Regions from separate parts of the Homo sapiens genome. Here region 1 is linked to region 2. The links come from fine-mapping of genetic effects on gene expression. A gene starts in region 2. The other region holds a variant in brackets. All regions are shown on one strand. Distances are between the middles of the regions.

What was found.
Region 1: its variant is fine-mapped to the expression of DDB1 in whole blood (TOPMed, PIP above 0.99).

The regions. Positions count from the first base shown.
Region 1 is chr11:61,247,128-61,258,189 of GRCh38, forward strand. PGA5 (pepsinogen A5) reads left to right here. Exons shown (of 9, transcript NM_014224.5): 6 at 1,292-1,408; 7 at 2,542-2,686; 8 at 2,789-2,887; 9 at 4,005-4,317. The coding sequence ends at 4,154. Among named protein-coding and RNA genes, the nearest start is that of PGA5, 11 kb to the left of the region's middle. The variant T/C (reference allele first, on the strand shown) is at 6,282.
Region 2 is chr11:61,329,018-61,339,623 of GRCh38, forward strand. DDB1 (damage specific DNA binding protein 1) reads right to left here and starts at 4,088. Exons shown (of 27, transcript NM_001923.5): 1 at 3,891-4,088; 2 at 2,526-2,674; 3 at 941-1,057; 4 at 346-567. The coding sequence starts at 3,951. TKFC (triokinase and FMN cyclase) reads left to right here and starts at 4,211. Exons shown (of 18, transcript NM_015533.4): 1 at 4,211-4,312; 2 at 5,603-5,714; 3 at 8,924-9,113; 4 at 10,049-10,159; 5 at 10,237-10,418. The coding sequence starts at 5,712. RefSeq lists enhancers at 3,650-4,172, 4,173-4,695 and a silencer at 4,091-4,350.

The DNA of each region.
Region 1 (11,062 bases), 82 kb before region 2:
TTCGCCGTCATTCATGTGTCTCCTCGGTTGGTAACTACACGTCTAGGTCCTCACTATATTGCCTTGCACTGTGAGATGTTCGCAGCAAAGGTGGGGTGGGTTCAGTGAGTGGGGTCATGTTTTAGAAATGGCCAGTTCTCGGATGATTAATTTCTTTTTTTTTTTTTTTGTGATGGGGTCTCGCTCTGTCGCCCAGGCTGGAGTGCAGTGGCGCTATCTCGCCTCACTGCAAGCTCTGCCTCCTGGGTTCATGCCATTGTCTACCTCAGCATCCCGAGTAGCTGGGACTACAGGCATGGGCCACCATGCCCAGCTAATTTTTTGTATTTTTAGTAGAGATGGGGTTTCACCCTGTTAGCCAGGATGGTCTCCATCTCCTGACCTCGTGATCCACCTGCCTTGGCCTCACAAAGTGCTGGGATTACAGGCATGAGCCACCACGCCCAGCCCCGGATAATTAATTTCTTATTGCCGTCTACATTTCCTTCCACATCTAACCTGAAACTGCAGAGATTTAGAAAATGAATATTGCAATAACAAGGACTCCTGCAATTTACAACAGGAAGGCTCTTTGTCATGTATTCTTCTTGGCCAGTTAATGTTCAAGGTGGCTCTGAAACATCATCTGCCTTTATGAGCACTTAAATATTTCATGTGGGGCCATTGTATCTCCCCAGCCAGATCCGAGTTTCTCAATCTGGGCACTGTTAACATTTCAGACCACCATAATTCCTTGCCGCCAAGGACTGTCCCGTGCATTGTAGGATGTTTGGCAGCATCCCCAGCCTCTACCCATGAGATGCCGGCAGCATCCCCTACCCCCACCCAATCATGACAATCCAAAATGTCTCCAGACATGCCCCTGGGGGCAAAACTGCTCCCAGCTAAGAACCAGTGACCTCCACCCTCAAGTCCTTAAGAGCGGACACTGTCATGCATTCACTTCCCTGGGGTCCCCATGGCAACCAGAGTGGGTACCACGGTGGAAACCACACATTCAAACTATAAGGCCTGTGTTCTTCCAAACGTAGTTCCACCACTCCCCCGCTGTGTGACCTTGGGCAGGTGGCCTCACCTCCCTCAGGCTCAGTGTCCTCATGGTAAGTGGAAACAACAGTGACGGTGCCCACTGCATGGGCCCTGGCCTAAGAGGAAAAGAAACCACATTGGTCACACCCCAGGACAGCCCTGGAAAGTGCCCAATCAACGGTCGCTCTGAGGAGGCAACAGCAGATGGTCACACAAATGGACGAACAAAAAAATTCATGTCTTCTCCCCTCACTTTCCACAGCGATGACAAGAGTGGCAGCGTGGTGATCTTTGGTGGCATTGACTCTTCTTACTACACTGGAAGTCTGAACTGGGTGCCTGTTACCGTCGAGGGTTACTGGCAGATCACCGTGGACAGGTGAGACTGCCATGAACGGGCAGCATCCAGGCCTGGGCCCCAGATCCCATTTCCTTATGGATTCATAGCCAATCAGCTTTCCAGAATCCCCCCAGGAACAGCTGGCACAGGGGAACACACTCCAGGGGGAAGGTGGAAGTTGGCCAAGCCAAAGAGACCCCTAGAAAGACACCTCCCTGCAGGAGGAGGGAAGAGCTGTCTGGGAAGCTGAGACTCTGCAAGGGTGAGATGGCCACTGTCCTCCTAGTCACGGAGGCAGGACCATCCACCAGCATCCCTGGGGAGAGCTGGGGGACCCACCTGTCCACGCATCTCACAATTTAAGGGGGCTGTGAACAAGCACACGCTCCTGCCACTCGAGGAAACATGTCACTTTCCGTCTAGAAGTGGGGCAAAATGGCTAAGAAATTGTGTGAAGTCACTTCATTCCACCCTCCCCTTCGGGGCCTCCCCTGTCTCCCTGGCAGCTTCATTTCTACGCTGTTCTTCCCCAGCTAGCCTGCTAGCGTGCTCAGTGGTGTGGGTTTTCCCAAGAATGAACAATTTCCCAGGACAGAGACTTTCAGTACTAAAACTGGGACCAGCCCAGGCAAACCAGGACACATGGATCACCTCATGTCTGCCCAGCCATGCTAGAATTTCACCAGTTCCTCCAACACCTGCCCCAGCCCTCTGGTCTCTGTACCTCCCCGCATACCATCCCCTGATGATGTCCTCCTTCTCTCTTCACCTGCCTGGCATTCCTGGGTGTCTGTTCCCCTGGCTGCTCCCCTCCACCACCTCTCACCCTGGGCCCTGTTTTTGTTCCCTGCCTCATGCCTGACTGATCATCTTGCCCTTCTGCCAACATAACTTATCTTGCCAGCTAGGCCGGGAGCTCCCTGCAGCCTGGAACTGTGAGGCTGTCTTGTTTCGCTTGGCGTTTCCCATGCCTGGCAGAGGGTAGGCACTTGGGAAATATTTGTAGGGTAAATGAATGCGGGATGAATGAGTGCGTGAACGAGAGGAACAGAAATTTCACGCATTGGCCAATGGATGGGTGGGGAAGGAATGTCTGGGCTCACCTCCTGGTTCCTCCTTGGAGAGATGAACCCCTGAGGGCTCAGGGAGCTTAACTTGCTTCTTACCCTCAGCATCACCATGAACGGAGAGACCATCGCCTGTGCTGAGGGCTGCCAGGCCATTGTTGACACCGGCACCTCTCTGCTGACCGGCCCAACCAGCCCCATTGCCAACATCCAGAGCGACATCGGAGCCAGCGAGAACTCAGATGGCGACGTGAGTCCAGCCCCGACTGCCCTGTTCTACACTCAAGTAGTGGGTGTGCCAGGCAGAAGCGACGAAAACCCTTCTAACTTTTCTCACCCTCACTCTTTCCAGATGGTGGTCAGCTGCTCAGCCATCAGCAGCCTGCCCGACATCGTCTTCACCATCAATGGAGTCCAGTACCCCGTGCCACCCAGTGCCTACATCCTGCAGGTGAGGAGGCTCTGGACCATCCACTAGAGAGGTTCACACAGAATGTGGACACAGAGTCCCCTTCTGCAGAGGGAAAGTACACTTCCACGAGCTGAAGCCAGCAGGCAGAGGCAGACGAACATCTGCCCTAGACAGCCTCCAGAGAAAAAGAATATATTAAAAACAAATGCAGGAATAAGAACTCGGATACAGCCCCCTAAGGGAACAAGTGAAGCAAAGGTTAATGGAGTGAAAAGAGGATTCTATTTGGACCCCTGCGTCCAAGTCCTGGGTCTGAATTACTAGCCCATTGATTCTGAACAAGCTACAGCTCATCTCACCCTCAGTTTTCGCATCCAAAAGGTAGAGATGGCAGCTTTCCCCACCCTCAGAGTGCGGTTAGGTCAACCAAGTGAGACTGATCACATCAGAGCTACCAAGGGTTGGGCAAATGGAAATCCTAATTTCCATAGGCTGGGGCTTCCAACACTTCTACCATCTCTACCAAGTAGCAAATCTTTAGCTATACGAGCCACAAGAAAACTCTTTCCCTTCTGTTATTATAACGTCAGGTGGAAAACTAATTTTGCCAGTGGACTCAAGTTATTCAACAAGAAGCACTGATGCCTGGGCTCCCCCACTGATTCTGATTACATTAGGAGAGGGCAAGGCCTGAGCAATGGGATGGGGCTGCGGGGGTTCAAAGCTCCCCAGGTGATGTGCAGACAAGGTCGCAGCCCAGTGACTTAGTGAGGCAAGAGGGCTAATAGCTCATCTGGTTTGTCCCTGATGAGATAAGAATAATAATGAGAAAAGGATGTAGTGGCAGGGTTTTTAAACTCCTTCCTAGCAGCTGAATTCTACCTAAGCCCCTTAGCACCGATGCTGATGTCAGGGTTCGTGTGCCTGCCAGAAACACCAGATAATGTCCAGTAATGCGTAGAAACCAGTCGTGCATTGGATGGCTTCTACAGGCTGACTCCAGGCCAAGAACAGCCGAATCCCTGGACACTGAGCCAGGAAGCTCCTCCTTGCACGTGCCTTACAGCTGGACCAGGGCTCCCTGGATGTTTATCACCCAGCGCCTATCACGGCTGAATCGGTGTCCCAGCTCCACTTTTATTCTCCTTTTCTCCAGAGCGAGGGGAGCTGCATCAGTGGCTTCCAGGGCATGAACGTCCCCACCGAATCTGGAGAGCTTTGGATCCTGGGTGATGTCTTCATCCGCCAGTACTTTACCGTCTTCGACAGGGCAAACAACCAGGTCGGCCTGGCCCCTGTGGCTTAAGCCTAAGTCTCTTCAGCCACCTCCCAGGAAGATCTGGCCTCCGTCCTATGCCCACTTTAGATGTATCTAATTCTCCTGACTGTTCTTCCCAGGGGAGTGTGAAGGTCTTGGCCCTGTTCCCTGTCCTACCAATAACGTAGAATAAAAACATAACCCACTGAAACAGGTTTTGTGGAGCTGCTTCTCTTTGCTGGTCTTTTTCCTTCACATTACTGGGGTTAGAACGCCAGGGCAGGGATGAAAATGACCACATCCACTTGGATGGCACCCAACATAGTGACCCCAGCAGCTGACACTTCATGATGGAGCCAGGAAGACAGAGAGGCTTCAGGGGGTTGTGCTGGAAGCATCATAAAAAGACCTGGGGGCCAAAATACTGAGCTAATTGTCTTCTCATAGAAGGGACACAGAGCTGAGATCCTGCCATTGTACTCTATCCTGGGCGACACAGAGAGACTCCAGCTCAAAGAAAAAAAAAATAGGGCACTGAAGCTCTTAGTTGAGGGAGTCAACTTCTTCTTTCTCCCAAAGCCAATAAGAGATCATGAGAAGGCTGGGCACAGTGGCTCACACCTGTAATCCCAGCACTTTGGGAGGCTGAGGCGGACAGGTCACCTGAGGTCAGGAGTTTGAGACAAGCCTGGCCAACACAGTGAAACCCTGTCTCCACTAAAAATGTAAAAATTAGCTGGACATGGTGGTGTGTGCCTGTAATCCCAGCTACTCGGGAGGCTGAGGCAGGAGAAGCGCTTGAATCTGGAAGGCAGAGGTTGCAGTGAGCTGAGATCGCACCATTGCACTCCAGCCTGGGCGACAGAGCGAGACTCCATCTCAAAAAAAAAAAAAAAAAAAGAGCTCATGAGGAAAGGAAAGCAATCAGGAGAGTCAGGAAAGGCGGACACTAATGGTGATGTCCCTAAGTAGATAGGACAGGGCAGTGTTGTCTGCAAGACATGGACAAGAGAAGTGGAAGAAGCTGACACCCCACAATCTTATAGGATGCCCTTGTGATTCGCTGGCTACCAAGACTAACAGTTAATCTCCCCCAAGTCCCAGGCATAAGACACTGAATCCATCTGTTTCCCCATCTGTAACCAAAGAGAAAGGTCTTCCACTTCCCTGAGCAGAGGTTGTGAGACAGAGAATTAAGCATGTTCATTAGCATATATGCCCTAGAAAGGCAAAGAGGAAATGGAGCAGTTTCTCAGACTGGGCTTGGTAGCAAAATGTTCAATGGAAAACACAGTTTCAGAATAAGTATAGAACATGCTACATTCTAGGCCCTTCCCCAGGGTTCACCAGCTACAGTTCCCAATCAAAAGCTCTGACAAGTCCTGCTGCAAAGTGATCTGTTTCTTTTTTACTCAGCTGAGCTTCATCTCAGACTCTCTCTTGCTAGTAAGTCTATTACAGCCCTGGGCTCCCCGGCATGCATGCTGGGAAAATTCCCATAGCTCCTGCTTCTGGTGACAGCCGACCTAGGCTGTCTGCTGAAGACACAAACCCAGAGGCTGGAGCTGGGCTCTAGGAAGGGCGGGGGTGAGCTCCAACACCCAGTCTCCCCAGGGTCACTCTCACCCTCCCAAGCCCATTTTCCATAGCTGAATAAACTTTAGGAAACATAAATTTCATCTCATCCCTTCCTTGCTTTAAACTCTTAATGCCTTCTTGCCATTGCCGTTGGAATAAAACAGCAAATCTTTGGCATAGTTCCAGGTCCTGTGTGCTCCTTTCCCTCCAAACCTTCCCTGCTTCACTCTGATCCCGTTACCCTGAGCTCCGTCCACCCTGGCCTCCCACGGCCACAAAAGCCCATGTGTTCTTCCCACCTCCAGACTTTGCACATGCTGTTCCCTTTGCCTGGGTTGCTTTTCCCTCTTTCTTGACTAGCTAACACCTAGCATCTGCAGACGTGGCTTAAATGTCACTTCCCAGCCGTGTGTGGTGGCTTATGCCTGCAATCCCAGCACTTTGGGAGGCCAAGGCAGGCAGATCAGCTGAGGTTAGGAGTTTGAGACCAGCCAGGCCAACATGGTGAAACCCCATCTCTACTAAAAATACAAAATTGGCCGGGTGTGGTGACCCATGTCTGTAATCCCAGCTACTTGGGAGGCTGAGGCAGGAGAA[T/C]TGCTTGAACCTGGAAGGTGGAGGTTGCAGTGAGCCAAGATCACACCACTGCCCTCCAGCCTGGGCAACAAGAGTGAAACTCCGTCTGAAAGAAAAAAAAGCATATGGCTCAGTAACTTCCCTTCTGAAAATTTACCTTAAAGATACACTAGTAGATGTGCAAAGCGATGTAAGGACATGATTTTTTGTAGCATCATGTGGAAAAGCAAGATTTGAAATGACCCAAAAGTGCATCCACAGGAGTTGGTTCAACAACTTATGGTGCATCCACACAATATACAGCTGTAAAAGGAAGAAGCAAATGTGCTCACTGGGTGCTAAGATGGAAAGACCTTTTTTTTTTTAAGACGGAGTCTTGCTCTGTCTCCCAGGCTGGAGTGCAGTGGCATGATCTCAGCTCACTGCAATTTCGGCCTCCCGGGTTCAAGCAATTCTCCCGCCTCAGCCTCCTGAATAGCTGGGATTACAGGCACCTGCCACCACACCAGCTAATTTTTGTATTTTTAGTAGAGACGGGATTTCACCATGTTGGCCAGGCTGGTCTGGAACTCCTGACCTCATGATCCACCCACCTCGGCCTCCCAAAGTGCTGAGATTACAGATGTGAGCCACCACTCCCAGCCTCGGAAAGATCTTAAAAAGAGGGTAAGTTAAAAAAAAAAAAAAGTGAATTACAGCGATTTTGAGCCTCTGTAAGTTTGTCCTACTTAGAAACCTACCGTGACTTGCCTTCAGGCCATGCATCTAATAACCTTTAAAATCAGGTCTCTTGAAACAGGTCTGATCATTCTGCCCTTTGAGAAGCTGCCAGGTGCAAGGGAAACTGAGGCCACAGAATAAGCTTCCGACACACCCCCATTCTGTTCTGTTTCTCAGAACCCTAAAAGTGGAATCCTAGCTCAGGAAAAATGCAAGGTGTCTCCATCCAAGAACAAACACTCCCTTGCTTGTTGGAGCACAGGCTCCCGAGAATTCAGAGCAGCTTATCCCATTAAAGGCACTGCGCGCCCCGCTGGGGGCTTCAGGTGGACTCCTGCCTCCTGGTGCACTGCGGTTTACCGTGCACAGAACATGTGCTTACATGGCCCAGTGAGAGCCCTGACCCAGCCCTCCACCCATGGCTCCTGCACCTCTGCCCCAAGAGCCTTCTGGTGCCTGGGGACAAGCAGAAAGGCAGGCTCAGTACTATGGCAAGGCCAGCAGGGTGTGCTAGAGAGCCAAAAGCCCAGGACAAGGCTCGACCAGTGAGGGACGAAAGTTGAGGGACAACTACTGGTGCATCTTCACACCCTTGGGGGACAATCCTCAGGCAAGGCATGGGCTCCACAGTCTTCCAGAAGGTCCCTAGGACAAAGTGCCAATTGCCCATAGCTGCAACCGGCTCATCAATGCCCCTTGATTGGTCTTTTTCTCTTGGCTCTCACCCGAATACTATCTCTGGGTCTGCTTTAGGGGGAACCCAAACTAAAATAGTGTTCACAGGGCCCCTCCTAAACTGTGGGCCATCAGCTGTCTCTCCAAACACCAACAGGAGAACCTCATCAGGTGAAATGTGAAGCGAAGGAAAAACACCTGGACTGGGAGTCAGACGAATGAGGCTGTCTTCCCATTCAGCCGTCATAATCTGTGCAGCCTTAGAACACTCTCCTAACTTCTCTGAGCCTCTGCTTCTCAGCTGTAATATTGGGTGGGGAACAGTCCAGTTAAACATGTTTTTATACTCGGAAAAACTTGGGAAAAGTGTTTACAGCTGTCCCCCTGCCCCACCCCCAACCAATCTTTTTTTTTTTTTGAGATGGAGTCTCGCTCTGTCACCCAGGCTCTGAGTGCAGTGGTGCGATCTTGGTTCACTGCAACCTCTGCTTCCCAGGTTCAAGCGATTCTCCTGCCTCAGCCTCCTGAGTAGCTGGGACTATCGGCACATACCATCACGCTTGGCTAATTTTTGTATTTTTAGTAAAGATGGGGTTTCACCATATTGGTCATGCTGGTCTTGAATTCCTGACCTCGTGATCCGCCCACCTCAGCTTTCCAAAATGCTGGGATTACAGGCATGAGCCACCACACCCGGACTCCTTTTTTTTAAACATTCAAAATGAACATCATTGACATGAGTCCTATTTGCAGAGGCAGGTGGGGGGGACTAGTATTAAACTTAAATTGCATGCTAACTTATTGCATAAAGGAACAGCAATGAGGAAATTGGCACTAATTTTTAGCCACTACCATTTTGACAGATGGACTTGTTTGAAAAGTTGCAGCATGGGGGCAATGAGAATTCTACGCTTTTATCCTGAAATCAGACCCCACGTGGCATCACCAAGCCGGGTGGGCTGTAGCAAGTTTAGGGGCCACAGGGCCACAAGTGCAAACCACTGAGACTTATGGAGGCATTATCACACGTCATTGTCACAACTCCATAAAGTAGGCCTGTTATTATCCCCATTGTCCAAATAAGGGAGCAGAGGCCTGGCGCGGTGGTTCATGCTTGTAATCCCAGCACTTTGGGAGGCCGAGGCAGGCAGATCACCTGAGGTCAGTTTGAGACCAGCCTGGCCAACGTGGCGAAACCCCATCTCTACAAAAAATACAAAAACTAGCTGGGCATGGTGGCGTGTGCCTGTAATCCCAGCTACTCGGGAGGCTGAGGCAGGAGAATCGCTTGAACCTGGGAGGTGGAGGTTGCAGTGAGCCGAGATCATGTCACTGCACTCCAGGCTGGGTGACAAAGCAAGACTCTGTCTCAAAAAATAATAATAATAAGGGAGCAGAGACCTAATATCCCACAGCTAGTCCAGCTGAGCAAGGCTCCAACTTGAGATTCATTGGCTGCAGACCCCGCTCATGACCATGACCCTTTGTATCTTACTGGACAAAACGGCCTCTAAGTCCTTTGCCTCTCTAAACTGTTTGGTTTCCATGCTCCTATCTCCCACATTTATTATTCCTGCCACCAGCCGCAGGTTAGAGGCCAGGACTACACTGTCGTCTGGACTGGATACCAGGTTGCCTTTGCAGCCAGGAAACACTTCAGCAGACCCTTCGCCCTGGGACACAGAGTGAGTAGCAGGTCAGAGAAGGGCTCAGAAGAGGGCGGCCTCGGCAAAGCGATGGGCCATGCCCGGGGGTGCTTTCACTCCGCAGCCTCCATGGGTTTCAGTGGTAGCAAGTGTGGGGCTGCAGGCCCGTAATCCCAGTACTCAGGGAGGCTGAAGTGGGAGGATCGCTTGAGCCTAGGAGTTCAAGACCAGTCTGGGCAACACAGCGAGACCCTATTTCTACAAAATTTTTTTAAAAGTTAGACAGGCGTGGTGGCATGTGCCTCTAATCCCACCCACCCGGGAAGCTGGGGTGGGAGGAAGGCTTGAGCCCATGAGGTTGAGGCTGCAATGAGCCGTGATCATGCCACTACACTCCAGCCTGGATGACAGGGCAACATCCTGTCTCAAAAAAAAAAAAATGGTAGCAAGTGGTGACTTGGTGACAGAGCAGCTTCTGCTTTCCAGCCCCACATCACTTCCCTTATCACAAATCCGCATCCCCCCATTCATGACGGCACTGTCCTCTTTCCGTCTCTCATGCACACTGTGCTACACTGCCCAGATCCCCCCACTAGGACTGAAGGATCAGTCTCCCAGCTGCTGGGAAGGTGGTTGATAGCAGCTCTCTGGTCAATATGAGGCAGAAAGCCCTGCCCCGTAGCTCCAGCTCAGGACAGCTCCGAAGGGCCAGCCTAACCCCAGAGCTCCCAGAGGGGGCTGGCTGAGGCTTCGAGAAGGCCCAGCAGCCCCAACTCTCCCTCCCTGCTCCTTCCCCGCTGCCCACAGGTGTTCCTGCTGAAAACACGTCTTAAGAAACTGCTGGCCCGGCCCGGCGCGGTGGCTCAGGCCTGTCATCCCAGCACTCTGGGAGCCCAAGGTGGGCAGATCACCTGAGGTCAGGAGTTCGAGACCAGCCTAGCCAACATGGTGAAACCCCAACTCTACTAAAAATACAAAAAATTAGTCAGGTGTGGTGGCGGGCACCTGTAATCCCAGATACTCAGGAGGCTGAGGCAGGAGAGCCGCTTGAACCCAGGAGGCAGAGGTTGCAGTGAGCCAAGACCTTGCCATTGCACTCTAGCCTGGGCAACAAGAGCGAAACTCCATCTCAAAAAAGAAACTGCTGGTCTGTCATTTCGTCTCAGAGGTTCCTTCCCAGAAGCAAGTCCTCTCCATCATCTTTTCCCTTCTCACTGTGGAAGCCCCCCAGTGTCTGTATGGTATTCCATGGTGTACATACTATGCAGCCATAAAAAAGAATGAGATAATGTCCTTTGCAGGAACATGAATGGAGCTGGAGGCCATCATCCTTAGCAAAGTTACGCAGGAAGAGAAAACCAAATACCGCATGTTCTCATTTGTAAGTGGGAGCTAAATGATGAGAACACATGGACACATAGACACGAAAAGCACACACTGGGGTCTATGGAAGGGTGGAGGGAGGGTAGAGGGAGAGACTTAGGAAAAATAACTAATGGGTACTAAGCTTAATCCCTGGGTGATGAAATAATATAATCTGTATGACAAACCCCTGTGACACGAGTTTAACTATATAATAAACCTGCACATGTACCCCTGAACTTAAAATAAAAGTGAAAAAAAGAAAAAAGAAAACAGAAAAGAAAATCATGATCTTGGGGAAAAAAATAAAAAGAAGTCTCCCAATATAAAAGGCCGCCAAGTGCTTACAGGAGACCCTTCCCCAGCCCAGTCACAATTTGGTGCCAGCTTTTCTCCCCA
Region 2 (10,606 bases):
ATTTCTTGACAACTAAGTTTTAATAATCCCCTAGCACTCCAGTAAGAGAATCAAAGTATAAACTGGGTCATCCTATGAAATCTCCCAAGGCCCACAACCAGAGTGTAATCTCAGGATTAAAACCTGCTACAAGCCCCAGAGAGCTTGCTGCCTCCACAATAAGTACTACTGCACTCAAGAAGCAACGAAAGTCTGACCCATATTAATTGTGTTGTTCAAAACATTTCAGGACAAACACATTAAACACTTCTCTCTATCCTACCAAACCCAGACATGCCAGTTAGCAAAAACAACTCCTATCACATCAACCTCACAGTTTCTCGCTCTCTCTTCCTGATCCAGTACCTGGTAGACAAAGCAAATAGTAGGTGCTTGGCAACCATATAGGAACTTGACATCAATGACATGCAGCTCCTCCAGGCGGATGTTGAAGGCCTTGAGTTCTTTATTATCGCGATCTAGTGGAATAACCTTGAAAAGGCCATCATAGAGACGCAGGCCAATCATCCGGCACTCAGGGTCAATGATGCCAATAATGCCGGTCTCTGAGGGGCGGCCAATGCGGTCCTGAGAAACAAAATCGGGATTAGGGAAGAACCTCAACATCCACAGAGCAACAGAGGACGCTGGGCACCACTTGTGCAGAAAAATTTTAGGAGAGGTATTAAAACTAATGGATCTATTTGATAGGCCAAATAGTTGGAGCCCCAATGTCAGTGCATGCCTTTTTCATGAAACACTGAATCTCAATGAATTATTACCCTGTCCCTTGGGTCTTGAGTGAACTACAGGAGTCCTTTCTCCAAAAAGCTCAAACCCATAGTGTCTTCTCCTTATTTCTCTGATCGAATAGAGAGCTGCCCCCAGCACTTTAATTTTTTCCATGAATCATGACAGCCCTACTTAGAAAACTTTCATTGGCCTAAAGCAGCCACCTCACCTGGACATTGCCATGGGCTCGCGTAATGATGTCAATGCTCTCGCCACTCTGTTTATACTCCAGGATGCAGGCATTGTACTTCGCTGTCAAGATAAACAGCAGGTCCTTGCTCTCCCCCTGGAAACCAATATTATGCTATCAAAAGAGGTTCTTTTTAAAACAGGAACAACCTGTCCAGTCTTTAAGCACACCAAATTCTTTAAGAATTTTCCAAATTCTTCTCTCCCTAAAGAGAAAATACATGGTGAGCTTGTAACCCACACTAGGTACACATACACCCTAAGGGCATGTACAAAAAGCCAGAACTGAAGCTGGTAAACATCTAGTTCTCACTTTCATGATTCTCCATCTCTCTGTTCTACAAACAAAGTCTTCATCTATTTCAATCTCAAGCTAATCTCAATCATCCCATTCAAATTCTGAAAGATGAATGTAATGCCTCCTCCACTCCTCCCCAAGTATTTGAAGAAAGAGGAAAAAAAATGTGGGAATAACAACGGAAGCTAAAATGGATCAACAAAGTCCTACTTATTTAACACAGACTCCAAAAAATTGCTGTTTTGTTCAAAGGGTTATAATTAAAATTTTGAACCCACTGCTTTCTTGCCAGATTCAGTTAAGACAACATAAAGCAATGTGGTGGTGATTTGGATGAAAACATTTGCGCTAAAATAATGAAAATACTGATGGTAATTGTTTTTTTTGTTTGGTGTTTTTTTTTTTGGAGATGGAGTCTCGCTCTGTCACCGGGCAATGGGCGCCATCTCCACTCACTGCAACCTCCGCCTCCTGAGTTCAAGCAATTCTTGTGCCTCAGCCTGCCAAGTAGCTGGGATTACAGGCACGTGCCACCACACCCGGCTAACTTTTGTATTTTTAGTAGAGATGGGGTTTCACCATGTTGGCCAGGCTGGTCTCGAACTCCTGACCTCACGTGATCCACCCACCTCGGCCTCCCAAAGTGCTGGGGTTACAGGCGTGAGCCACCATGCCCGGCCTGGTAATTGTTAACATAACTGTAAATGCTTGCTATATGATAGGCCCTATGTTACTGAATCATTTCATCGTCACAACAACCCAGGGGATTTGATCTGAAAGGTGCCTTAAGTGGCACCTAAAGTCAGAATTAACAAGAAATGAAGCCAGGACTGCCCCACTCTGTAGCCTATCCTCTGAAACAAACTGCTTTAATTTCTCCCTTCTAAAGAAGTCAACTTCATAAATGTTTCCCTAATGAATCTCTCCTTTTACTTCTAGAAAGCTTGGTCAAGAGTACATACTGAAATTTGCTATCCAAAGAGAGAAAAAAGAGAAGAGTTTTTCTCCTAAAGCATATTCCACCCATCCCAAGAATTCGCAAAACAACCTAACACAGCCCAAGCACGGTGGCATGCCTACAATACCCCAGCTACTCTACTCCAGAGGCTAAAGTGGAGGGATTGCTTGAGCTCAGGAGTTCAAGACATCCTGGGCAACACTGTGAGACCCCCGTCTCAAAGAAAATAAATAAACAAACAAAAATAACATAAAACAACCTACGACCAACAGTTCCCCCTCCACTGCTTGTCCCAACTGCAACACTTACCTTGGGCCTGAAAAGCTCCATGACCGCAATCTTCCCATACATGCCCACCTCTTTGACGGGCCGAAGCCCCTCGGCGGTGACCACATAGATCTCTAATCTCGTGTTTTTGGCAATCAACAGGTTTAAGTCTTCGGCCGAAGTAAAGTGTCCTGAAAGAACAGACCCTCTAACTTTTGAACTCAGGGGAAGGGCCTCCCATCCCTTCAAAATAATCCTATCACTTATGTCTAAATACCTCCAGAATTCTCATTTACTTCACATACTTCTCCAACTCCCTCCAGCTACTCCCCTTCTTGCCAAATCCGGCACCTCAAAGAGTCTCAGTTCATGCATTCAACAAAGCTACTTCCCTAATCAGACTAAGAAAACTGGACTGGACCTAAGAGCCGTGTGTCCTCCAAATGACAATGACTGCGTAATCCCTTCTCATGCCTCTTGCCCCTCCAATTTTACTCTATTACAGTTACAGTGGCAGGCTCTAATTGAGAATGCCGGAGAAAGTGTTCACTTCTTCCAGTCTTCATCTAAAGTCTCACAAAACTTTTATCTGACAGACCAAGTCAAATGAAGAAGTCCCAGAGCTTTATATGAAAACACTGTTTTGTCCACACCCCCTGCCCTCCTGGCAGTCTACCAATACCTCCATCCACACTCAGCTACCTCCAACTCTGAACAACAGTTTTGTTTTGGAATCATGATTAGGGTGTATATAAACATGCAAGCTTGGGGTCTGCATATTCAGCTGAGAATGTGGGTTAAGATGACTCTTCCCGGGTTCTGAACATCGGTGTCCTTAACAATCCAAGCGCATCGTCAACAAGGCAAACCCAGCACTGGGCCAGGCAAACCAAACCCTCTTCTCCAGCAGGGCCCTCATGTAAACAACAGCCCCAGGCAAAGGGGTTAGCCTGAAGAGGGCTCCTCTCCCTCTGTGGGATAATGCGGGCATTCCTCACATCCCTCCACCTCCTGGGCCCCCCAGACTTCCCCACAGGAAAATCTTGACCCCAAAGTCGTCATTACCACCTCCCCTTTTCCTGGCCACAGAAAGCCAATCTCCGGGCCCAAACGACACCGCACAACCAACTCACACTCCTCTGTCTCACTGGGCCCGCCCTGTTCTCGAGGCCGAATGACCTCCCCAGGACGAAAGGGGACCCTCGAGAGCGGCTTCCAACCCCCAAAAAGCGCGTACAGGGACGACTCTTTCGAGGTCGCGGTGCTGGGGGAGGTTCCTCGGCCGCCAGCGCCTTCCATTCGCCGGGCCCACTCCTGCCCGGCCGCCCCCGGGGCGGCGGGCCTCCCTAGGCCGCGGCTCCCCCCAACTCCCTCACTCGCCGGGGTCTCCGGCCCCGGCAGCCTCACCGGTCACGCAGCCGTTCACGGCGGTGGGCTTCTGGGCCGTTACCACGTAGTTGTACGACATGTCGAGGCTTGGAGCGGCCCGTCGGGACTCGAGCGCGACACTAGAAAGAGGGACACAAGCGAAAAGACAGGTGGCCCCCAACAGCGCGCAGCGAACTCCACTGCCGCTGCCTCCGCCCCAGAGACACGTTGCAGGCCAGAGCGGCCGGGGCGCGGGGCATCACGGGACGGCCTCACCTGGCCTCTTGGAGGACTCCCGAAGCCCGAGGCCGCCAACCGAAGGAGGCCCCGCCCCCGGAGGCACCGCCTCGCCTCTTTCCGCCAGCGCCCGCAGGACCCGGATGAGAGCGCACGCTTCGGGGTCTCCGGGAAGTCGCGGCGCCTTCGGATGTGGCGGATGCGGCCGTGAGCCGGCGGGGGAGGTGCGCCAGTGTCCTCCGAGCTCGCCCGCAGACTCCCCACCCCGTTCCGCGCCCTTTGCCCTTCCCCGCATCCAGTCCTCCTTCCGTTGCTCCAGGAGCCCTCGGGCTGTTCCTCCTTTGGGAACGGGAAGGACTGCGGAGGCATAGAGAGGGAAGGGAGACCGCGATTCGTGCATATCCCAGACTAGAACCTTGCCTGCTTTCCTTTCACTGTCTCAGTTCCTCCAGATCCAGCTGGTGCCCTCGCCTGACGTTTGAACGACCACCTGCTCACCTCCTCCCTTTTGCGCGTTGATTCTTCAGACTTCAAAGGGCCCACCGGTCTGCTTGCCCAACGTTATTAGTGCCCCTATTGCTCTACAAATTCGAACCTCAAACACAAAACCAGTATTTCTCCGTAGGGAACCTTAATGAGCCAGGAGAGCCGTCAGCCCTGCAGCCTCCAGGGTACCCCACATCAAACAGGCTCCCCGGGAACAAGAGGAATACCACGTGGCTTGGCACACTCGCAGAATGCCAGAGAGGAGCCAACCCCCATTTTACAGATGAGGAAGCTGAGGCTTAGGGAGGAATTGGTTTACCTAAGACCCTCCCCACAACCCCAAGTAGGCTGAGGCAGAGCTATGTTGATTCTTCCTATTGTGCACCCACACAGAGGCCAACACGCTGCTGAACCAGGCTGAACTGAGGAAAAGCTAGAAAGTCATCGTGGTTTACATCTTGCCTTTCCCATAGCAGAGACTCTGCCTGACTTTGGAGGCACTGAATTATCAGTAGTAAAAACACACTCTGTAGAAAAACTAGACATTGGTTTAGATTCTGGCTGTTACCTGTATTACCTTGGACAAGTCCCTAGAGCTCTCTGAGTCTGTTTCCCAGAAGTAAAATGGGTCACAAACCTGGCTAGCTCCCCCCATTCCCTTCCCTTTTGGTGCCAAGGCCAGTGAGGGCAAGCGTGTGACGAGCTTTGTTAACTTTTTCGCTGCATGTGATGCCCGTGTAAAAGATAGTTATTCTGAGGATCACTGTCCTTTAGTGATGAAGTGGGTGCTGTTCCTGGACATAAAGGCAGACCTGTGCTTGACATGGATTGATCTGTCTTCTGGCAGTGAAGTGCAGGCATGAACCTTGGTCAGCCCCACACTCTTCTCCATCCGTAGCCCATGTACTAGAGTTTGGACTTGGACCGAAGTCTGGGGCAGCTCCCTAATTACTAGGGTGCTGAAGGCGTGATTGTGCCAGTCGACTGCGAGTTCCTTCCGCAGCTTGTATCGTTACCCACTCCTGCAGGTGCTGCTGCTGCCTCCACTGTACTCAGACCCAGGTAGCACAGGATTGTCCATCCTCCAGCAGCTCAGTGCAACGGTGTGAACTCAGCCTGTTTCAGAGCCTCCACACCATGGTGAGTCATACAGGGCCGGGACGGGAATGGCAGCATGGTCTCAAAGCAGGATCCCAGCCTTGGGCAAGCTAAAGCTCCTTACACTTTGACTGAGAGATGCTATTGCCTCCTGAGGCTCACGGGTGAAGAGAGAGGGTCATCCTCTCTCCCAGGGTCTGATCCCTGCTTTTCTTTGTTTCCTGGAGGCTGCTGGTCCCAGCCAGGCCTGGGGCTGCAGCCTCTTGAGTCCCTTCAGAGCCACTCTGCCCCTTATCTGGGTCTTGCATTCAGAGTAAAACAGTAACAGTTACCTGCTCTGTAATAGACATTGTACCGGTCACAGAAGGAATCGTGAAGAATGACCATGTGACCGTTCCTAACCTTGGGGCTTATGTGGGCCGGTCTGGAGCTGGGATCTACAGTGTGGGAGGCTGGCCATGTCCCTGGGCTTTGCTCCAGGCCCACTGATTTGAACCAAAACAAGCCTTGAACATATCTGGATTCAAATTTCAGCCTGCCACTGACCAGCTGCATGACCTTTTACAGACCTCTCTGCGCCTCTTTTTCTTCATCTGCATTATAAGGCAAATTAAGGCCTACCTCCAGTGGTTGTGTGGTGTTGATCAAGCAGAGTCCTGGAGGCCTCACTTGACTTCCTTTCCTTTTCCATCCTTTCAGGCCACTGAAACCAGGGATAGCACTGGTCCCTAAACCCTCTTCTGGCTCTGTAAAAGACAGATTATCATGATGGGGAGCAGGCCACTTTCTTGGAGGGTAGTGCTGCTGGAGGCTGGGCTTGGAGTGAGGCCAACTCACAACTTCATTGTGTGTTCCAGTCCCTGGTAGGCTCTGAGAGCCACAAACCCATGTCCTTTCTAGGGCAACCTCTGTCACCCTCCACTTCCCTCCAGCCCCTCGAGAAAGCAGCATGATATGGCCAAAAGGGAACCAGCTTTGGAGCCAGGCAGACCTGGACACCTGCTGGCTGTGTGACCTTGGGCAAAATAGTTTAACTGTGCCTCAGTTTCCTCACTGGGCTCATCTTTCCTCCATAGGGCTGTTGGGAAGTTTTGTTTTGTTTTAGTTTGGGTTTTTTTTTTTGAGACGGAGTTTTGCTCTTTTTGCCCAGGCTGGAGTGCAATGGCGCAATCTCGGCTCACCACAACCTCCGCCTCCCAGGTTCAAGCAATTCTCCTGCCTCAGCCTCCCGAGTAGCTGGAATTACAGGCATGTGCCACCACGCCCAGCTAATTTTGTATTTTTAGTAGAAATGGGGTTTCTCCATGTTGATCAGGCTAGTCTCGAACTCCCAACCTCAGGTGATCCACCCGCCTTGGCCTCCCAAAGTTCTGGGATTATAGGCATGAGCTACCACACCCGGCCTGTTGGGAAGATTAAATGAGACATGCTCAAAAACACTTAGAACTGGGCCTGGCTCTTAGTCACTGCTCAGCAAATGGAACCAATCTTATTGTTCTTCTTGCTCCCTACAGACCTAGGCTACTCTGAAGCAGGTGGCTTAGCCCTGGCCCTGGCTGGATGCAGGACAGGTTGGCAGGGAGGCAGCAGAGCCAAATTTTGTACAAAGGAGCTGGTGCTAGCAAGCTCAGGAAGAAGCCACAGCCGGAAGTTCACCTTGCCAGGACCTGGCTCAGCTGCAGGTTCCCACCGGGCCACCAGGTGGCGGTGGGAGCCCAGCCCTCTGAGTCCACGTTGGGCCCCAGTCTCACTCTGTCTTCAGGACAAAGCCAGGGGCTGCAGCCCTTGTTCAGCAGACTCTGGCTTTTCACAGCCTGTTTGAAAAAGGGAGTAGCTTCATTTGATTGAGTTTCCACTATATCATGGGCATATACTCTGTTCTAGTAAATCCCTATTTTACAGAGGAAGAATTTTAGCTCCCGACAATGATGTATCTTCCCTGAGTTCCTGCAGCTAATGAGAGGCAGAAGTGGGATTTGAACCCAAGTCCCTGTAACAGCAGAGCTCAAGCCACACTCCATTCTGGCCCCCACGCTACTCACTTCTGTCTGCACCCTGTATCCACTCAGCCAAGCCTGGCGGCACTGCTCTGTAACCCTCCACCAGCCTGTCCACAACCCCTCCTGAGGCTGCCTGTGGCCAGTCCTCTCCTCCCCACCCCTTCCTGCTGGTCACCCGTGCTTCCTGGCACCACCACACTATTCACTCATCCAGGCCTTGGCTTATGCTCCCCCTCTGGCTGGAAGAGCCTCCCTTTTCCCTCCTCCCATGTCTCCTGCCCCCTTTTTCCCTACCCCGGTCCTGCTTATCCTTCCCAGAGACCTCCAGGCCCCTCGGGAGGCTGCGGCCCCTCCTCTATGCTCCCATGGTGCACGTGCGCTCCTCGTGTAGCAGTGCCCACTACACATGGCTGTGACCTCTGCTGTGTTTCCACTGAGGGCAGGAACAGCATTGTTATCTCTTTTTTTATTTCCGAGATGGAGTCTCACTCTGTCACCTAGGCTGGAGTGCAGTGGCACGATGACAGCTTACTGCAGCCATGACCTCCCAGGTTCAAGTGATCCTCCCACCTCAGCCTTCCGACTAGTGGGACTCCAGGCATGCACCACCATGCCTGGATCATTTTTCATATTTTTTGTAGAGATGGAGTCTCATCATGTTGCCCAGGCCGGTCTCAAAGTCTTGGACTCAGGCGATCTGCCTGCCTCAGCCTCCCAAAGTGCTGGGATTACAGGCATGAGCCACTGCACCTGAGCTGTTATCTCTACACATAGTGTCTAGTGCTGGGCCTGGCATACCAAGAGGCTGGGGAAATGTTTGCCCCGCGTTGGAGCACCAGGGAGCAGCGGTGGCTGTGGAACCTGCTCAGCTCCTCCCCCAGCATAGGAGCCTCAGCCTGAGGCTTTTCTTCCTTTTGACAGAAGAAGGTGTTGGGCCCCAGTTTTATTAAAATATTTTACACTGCAGGCAACCACTCCCCCATTTTCTTTGTATTGCAGCCATTTTTTCAGAATAAATTGAAGGTATGGTGCAAGACACTTCATAAATTAGGTACTGAATAGAAAGTCACACATTACTGAAAACTCACAGAAATACCCACCTAAGATGTCGCCCAACTCAAGGAAGTCCTGTGCTCCTGGAGTTCCTAGGTGGATGCGGGAGAGGGGTCTACACCACAGCAGTGTGGCTGCGCAGGATGGGGGTATCTGTACTGACCACATTCTGACCTCCTTCTCACTCCTCCCTTGCAGACCTCCAAGAAGCTGGTGAACTCGGTGGCTGGCTGTGCTGATGACGCTCTTGCTGGCCTGGTGGCCTGCAACCCCAACCTGCAGCTCCTGCAGGGCCACCGCGTGGCCCTCCGTTCTGACCTGGACAGCCTCAAGGGCCGGGTGGCACTGCTGTCGGGTGGGGGCTCTGGCCATGAGCCTGCCCATGCTGGTGAGTATCCTGGGGTGGGGCAGGGGGTACTAGTGGAGTGGACAGGGCCTCCTGGGGGATCCTTAGTGCTGCCATGAAGTGCAGGATGGAGCTCAGCCCAGAATCAGGAACTGGGGTACTTCCCACTCTCCCACTCCCTCCGGCTGGGATCAGGGGCCCATCACGGCCTCTCTGAATCTGTTTCTACATCTACAAATCTACGAAGTTGGGCCAAACAATCTCTCAAGTCCTTCTAGCTCTGAGAGTCGGTGATTCCATGAATCTTCTGGACCCTCCAAGCCCAGCAGACCCACCCCGATTCCATGAAGGCTTCCTGACTCTTCCAGCCTACAGCAGCACCCCTCTTCTGAATTCCCACCTGCTGTGTCCCACTTGTGGACTGTCCTGGCTTCTTTCCTGTGTGGAGCCAGGGACGCAGACTCTCCTTGAGGGCTGCTGGAGGGCAGGGACTAGGATGCGCGTCATTTCTCTGCTTCCTGTCTTCCTTCAGCAAAATCCATTCATTTGGCAAACACTCATGAGCCCACTGTGTACCTGGCGCTGTACTGGGCACTAGGGATACCAGACAGGCAAGGTCCCTGCCCTCGTGGAGCTTATATTCTACTTAGGGGAGACAGACAATAACCAAGTAAACACGAAAGTAAATGAGATCATTTCAGAGGGTGCTAAGTGACTTAGTAAAGACAGTAAAATGGGGCAAAGGAACAGTGAGTCCCTGGGGAGGGAGCTGGTGACTGCTTCAGGCTGGGAGGTCACAGAAGGCCTCTCTAAGATGCCTCCTAAGAAGGAGTCAGCCATGTGAAGACCTGGGGGATCTTTGAGCACCAAGCACACAGTAGGGCTCACCAAACCATGACCCCCGGAGTGTGGGAAGCCCCAGTGACTACAGGCGCGAGTCCCACCCAGCATGCTCACTCCACTCCTTCCACCTCCAGGTTTCATAGGGAAGGGGATGCTGACTGGGGTCATCGCGGGAGCTGTGTTCACCTCCCCGGCAGTGGGCAGCATCCTGGCAGCCATCAGGGCCGTGGCCCAGGCCGGCACAGGTAAGCCTGGCATGCAGGAGGGGCTGCGGCAGGGAGGGCACAGTAAGCACACTGAGCCCTTCCGGCTGCTCCCGCAGTGGGGACGCTCCTTATCGTGAAGAACTACACTGGGGATCGGCTCAACTTCGGCCTGGCCCGGGAGCAGGCCCGGGCTGAAGGCATCCCGGTGGAGATGGTGGTGATTGGGGACGACAGCGCCTTCACTGTCCTGAAGAAGGCAGGCCGGCGGGGGCTGTGCGGCACGGTGCTTATACACAAGGTGGGCTTCCACCGGGGACGTGGAGACTGGCCAGCCCTTTCCAGCCTTCCCTTGCCTGGCAGCACCCAGTAACTGGACCTTTCCAGCCCTTCCCCAAGAAGCTAGTTCTTTTTCTCCAGTGTTCCCTGATCTCAGAAGGCCCCGCCATCCCCTCAGCTACCTAAGCCCAGATACAGGCATTTTCCCAG